2 separate regions of the Homo sapiens genome follow, and region 2 is linked to region 1. Evidence: fine-mapped expression QTL. Tissue or cell type: whole blood. Region 1 holds a variant in brackets; the other region holds the start of a gene. All regions are shown on one strand. Distances are from middle to middle.

The links. PIP is the estimated chance that this variant, and not a neighbour inherited with it, causes the effect.
Region 2: it holds the start of UBE2Q2, and the variant in region 1 is fine-mapped to the expression of UBE2Q2 in whole blood (INTERVAL, PIP 0.94).

The regions. Positions count from the first base shown.
Region 1 is chr15:75,928,322-75,931,008 of GRCh38, reverse strand. FBXO22 (F-box protein 22) reads right to left here. Exons shown (of 7, transcript NM_147188.3): 6 at 960-1,125. Among named protein-coding and RNA genes, the nearest start is that of FBXO22, 26 kb to the right of the region's middle. The variant T/C (reference allele first, on the strand shown) is at 1,211.
Region 2 is chr15:75,841,741-75,844,427 of GRCh38, reverse strand. It overlaps UBE2Q2 (ubiquitin conjugating enzyme E2 Q2), which reads right to left and starts at 981. Exons shown (of 13, transcript NM_173469.4): 1 at 582-981. The coding sequence starts at 761. RefSeq lists silencers at 171-570, 821-900, 1,041-1,180, 1,221-1,400 and an enhancer at 2-899.

The DNA of each region.
Region 1 (2,687 bases):
CAACGTACTTGGCCTTCCTCTCTTCCTCCTCCCTGGCAGTCCAGGGACCTCAACTTTAGCTATTTTCCCAGATCTAGCTCATAGAGATAACCAGAAGAGAGACTATAACTAGGATGACTTACATTATTCTTATAGATACTGATCTGCAACAGTCTGTCCCCATGTCACCACTCTAGGATGCAAATATTAAACAGAGTGGGAAACAAATAGTAGTGTTTACAAGCATTGAGGGTGGGGTAGGGTCTGATTTTCCTGCTGGAAACAAATGATATTTATGTCCACCTAATTGTTTCAAACTCAAAATGATATGTATTTTCATTCAAGATGGAAAGGAAGTAATGGCTCCCAAGACAGAAGAGCAAATATTTTTATCTTTGAAAGCAAAAGCCTTAGTAACAAAAAAGATCCACAATTTTTAAGCTTGAAAAAGCCTTTCAAAAGATCTAATACAGAATTTCCAAAAACCAGTACGACTTGCAAGACATTCTGTGGAAAAAAGTTTTGTGACCAAACACATTTGGGAACTGTCACAGGTAATGCTATTCTCCTTCCAGATTTCCACAGCACTGGGCATATTAGAAGCTCTGAGAAGTTTTGCCATAAAGATACACTCTAACCATGTGTTTCCTTTAAAGGAGGAAACTAGAAAGGAGGTGACACATTGAGGTCACACAGAGTACCACATCTGTCAAAGGAAAGATCAACAGGCAATGTCAAATTTTAAGGAGAATGTGACTCAAGGAAGTTCTTGAAGGACAATATATATAAAAATGTAATTATTCAACCGTAAGCAGAATTATGTTCAGTAAGCCCCTTAGCCAATGTCTACTACAAAATGGAATGAACTATTATCTTAATAATTCTTTAAACACGTTTTTTAAATTGTTAACCCCAAAGTGACAAAACCTGAGACCATTTCCCTTCATTCACAGACGAAATCAGAAGCACACAAGACATACTTTTCAGAAGTCAGTGATGACAGGTTGTCCACCTGGCCTCCAGCCAAGATGATATTCATATCACTGAAAGTGCTGACTACTTGCTGCAGATAATTACTGGCTCCCACCTTACAGCAATTATAACCAAAGACAAGGACCACACGAAGTTCAGGGTTATCTAAAAGACCTGCAGAGAAATGAAGAGCAACAGTTAAAGACAGCCTTAAAACAGAAATTATTTTATACATGCTGCAAAATGAAATGTTACTGAC[T/C]TGCACTCCACCTTAAGGGCAATTTAGTGGCTTAAGCTATCAAATTTTCCATTTTTTATTTTTTATCTTATTTTATATCCTCTTCGATCTCTGTATCAAGTTTTCCATTTTTTACAAACATTATGCAAAATCTTAATTATTTTTTCTATTAAAAAAACTAAATGGCTATTTGTGTTAATAAATAATGCAATCAACACAAATAATGAAGCAGCTATGTACTGAGCAGCAACTCTTGGTAGACCAAGGTGCAAGCTGGCTCTCAGTAGGGAACAAAAAAAAAAAAACACTGGTTTACACAGAGCTGTGCTAGCAGCAGTGAGAATTTACAGATTTTTTATTTTTTAAAGGAGAGAAAAGGCGCTAACCACTTATAGTGTGGTGAACAGTGCCCCCTGCCCATGCCAAAGGTATATCCACATCAAACCTCTGGAACCTATGCATGTAAGCTTATTTGGAAAAAGGATCTTTAAAAAAAATTTTTTTTTTTTTGGTAGAGATGGGGTCTCGCTATGTTAGTAAGGATCTTAAGATTAAATCATCTGGTCTATCCACGTGGGCTCTAAATCCAATGACAGTGTCCTCATAATGAAAGATGTACAAAGGAGAGACAGAGAAGAAAAGGCAGTGTGACCACAGAAGCAGAAACTGGAGCGGTAGGAAGAGAAAAAGAACAGACTCTCCCCTACAGCCTCCCAAGGTAGCACTACCCCTACTGCCATCTCAATTTCAGACTTCTGGCCTCCTGAACTGTGCAGAATAAATTTCTCGTTTTATGTCACCAAATTTGGGGTACTTTGTTACAGCAGCCTAAGAAACTACTACATCACTGAAATACAGGCTTTATTCACCTCCTCCACGGAAGCAGGTGAGAGTAAAGGCGAATTAGCCTTTGAAAGTTCCTTGCAAAGCAGGAAAATGTTCAATTCTGTGACACAGGAACTAAAAGCTGCTACCGCTAGGAGGTGGCAGAGTGTAACAGAGACAGCCTACTTGCTCTGCCCACAGCTCCCAGGTTTCACTGGAGCCTCTGGCAGCTTGTTTATAGACTATCAATTTGATTTTTTTTTTAAGTTCAGGGATACATGTTCAGGTTTGTTCCACAGGCAAACGTGTGTCATGGGGGTTTGTTGTGCAGATTATTTCATCACCCAGGTAATAAGCCCATTCTCCATTAGTTATTTTTCCTGATCCTCTCCTTCCTCACACCCTCCACCCTCTGGTAGGCCCCAGTGTCTGTTGTGCCCCTCTTTGCGTCGATGTATTCTCATCATTTAGCTCCCACTTATAAATGAGAACATGCAGTATTTGGTTTTCTGTTTCTGTGTTAGTTTGCTAATGATAATGGCCTCCAGCTCCATCCATGTCCCTGCAAAGGACGTGATCTCATTCTTTTTTATGGCTGCATATGTACTACATTTTCTTTATCCAGTTTATCACTGATGGGCATTCAGGTTGATTCCATGTCTTTGCTACTGTG
Region 2 (2,687 bases), 87 kb after region 1:
GGGGGAGAGGGGTCGCTCAAACAGCACCAGAGTCTGCATTCCAACTTTTCCTCCGTCAACGAGTCCATTCTCATTGTCAGTTTCTCCTTAAACGCAAACTTAAAAACAATTGGCTGAACAAGCGGGAAGAAGGAAAATCCGACTGAAAAATGAGGCGTTAAAACTTAAGGGCCGTTCCCCTTGCCGGCCTGGGCTCAAACAACAGCCGGAGCTGCGCCGCCCCGCCCCGCCCCGCCCCGGTCCCGGGAGCAGGCCGGCTGAGGGCGGCCATGGACCCCACAAGGGCTTGGGCCGCCGCGGACTCCCCCCTCGGGGCTAGGAGACGGGGACCGAGATGGGCCAGAAGCCCCCAAGCCAGCCCCTGGCGAGAAGCCGGAAAGACGCGCCCTCCGCCTCCTCCCACCCAAGCCTCGCGCAGTCCCAGCCCGGCCTGGGATGGGCAAGTCGCGGGGGAAAGGGGCGGGCCTGCCCCGCCCGGGGAGCCGGAGCCTCTCCGGGGCAGGCTCCCCTTTGTCCCGGGACTCGAAGCGCCCCCTCTCCGTCCTCGCCCTGCCCCGCGGGGCCGCGGCCGGGCGCCTCACCGTGATGTTGCAGTGGAGCGTGAGTGGCGGCGGCAGCGAGTGCGGGCTGCCCTGCTGCGGCACCAGGAACTGGCAGTGCAGCTCGTCCAGCTTCCAACTGACGATGCGGAATCGCTCGTGGTTCTTGTCGAAGATGGACGCCAGGAACTTCAGCTCGGCCTTGAGCCCTGACACGGACATCTTCCCCTCATCTCCGGCGGGAGGGGCGCGGAAGGGGAGCCGGGCGCGGAAGGGGAGCCGGGCCCGGAGCCGCCGTCACGGCCGCGACCGCCCCGCGGGGCCGGCCTGGGCCGCGCTCTCGCGGCTCCGCCTCGTCGAGCGCTGCTGGAAAATGGCGAGGGGCGCGGAAGCCTCGGCGTGTGGCGGCCTGGGTGGCGCTTCCTTTGTAACCGACTCCAGCGGCAGGAGGCGGCGGCCCCGCGGCTTAAAAGGGCAACAGCGACGCCGCCCCCGCTACCGCCTGGGAAAGGGCTGCCCCCACCCCGCCCCCGTCCCCCTCACCCTGGCGCGCCCTGCGCGCTCCGGTTTCAGCGCGTGCACGAGGCCAGAGCGCGCGCGCCCGGCCGCCCCCTCCTCGCCTTGACCCAGCTCCCTTGTTCCCGACCCATCTGCTCCGTTCTTCGCACCCGCGGACTGGAGGCTCGGGGCCAGCTGGCGCCCGGGCCCCAGAAGTCGGGGAGGAGCCGGAGACCCCCGCGCGCCCCCGCCCCCGGCCTGGAGCCGGACACGTGCGTGGCGGATCGCGCCGGCCACGTCGGCGCCGCTGCAGACTAGCGCCAGCCCCTGGGGGCGGCTCCTCAGCTTGGCGCTCGGCGCGGCACCCGCTAACCTCACTGGGGGGACCTCGTGGGAGACGCGGGTGCGGCTCACCCAGCGTTACCTCCGCTACTTTCACCCTAGTCCGAGCCACCGCTTCGCTAGCCTGGGTTCCTGTGAGGACCTTCTCACCAGCCTGGGTTCCTGTGAGGACCTTCTCACCGGACTCGCTGCTCCCGCCTTTGCTCTCAAACCATCCATTTACCCAAGACGATGGTTTAGCCCCTGGAGGCTGTTGCCTGGAGGTGTCCCATGATTTCATCCCTTCCCTTAGCTACCACCTGTGTTCACTCTGCCGTATATAGTCTCTCTCTCCCCCCTTTCCTTATTTTGCCTTGTTTCCCAAGCTTAAGATAACCCTCCCCACCCACACCCCCATGGAGCTAGGGCTGCCCACTATTTTCACTAAACTCATAGCTCAAATATCATCTCCGGCACCCCCCACCACAACCCATTTCAAATAGTCACCCTGTGTCACATCGTCCTGTGCTAAGTTTTTGTTGGGCACCTGTCACTATCTGATCTTTAACCCATTTATTCCTTGTCTCTGCCCCGTGTTAATGTGTTCAGAGCTGTATCCCCAGGACCTAGAACAAGACCTGTTATATAGTAGAAACCCGATATGATTGAATTGAATGCTCGCTCTTATCTGGAATCCCCACCACTAGCACAATTCCTGGCACATTGTAGGTGCTCAAAAAATGAATAAAGGTCTGGATAGCAGTCCAAAGGAATACATCCCAATTTGGCAGACAATAGTGTGTGCAATCGTAAGTGCAAGAGGCAGGACCAGCTGCATATGCGTCCAACCTATGTAGTTGCACAGTGCTCCCAGCTTAGAAGGGCTTCGAGCTTGGTTTAATATTCTGGTGTCGCCATTTTGAAATTCGTAATTTTTCAGAAAGGGGCTCCGCATTTTCCTTTTCCAGTCTTACCTAGAGTTACCCAACCCTGACACCTGTCTCTTTCTTCCTAATCTACAAGAGATCCCTGGGCTACTGGTCCCCTTAGATGACAAAATACAGAACAACACAGGGACACATTAAGTCTACTGAAAGTTTTTATTTCCATCTACTTCTGAGATTTTGTATCATGTTATAGTCCTTAGCCTTTAAGAAGACAAATAAACTTTTCCAATTTACCTCAGTAAGTTAGTAGCTCCCCACAGCCTACAAATTCAGTCTCTTATCATTCAAACCAGCCCTAACTTTTCCTGGCCATGCCCCAACTTCTACCATCTTCTACCCCAACTTCTATCTAGCCTTTAAGAAGACTAAGATTCTCACAGAC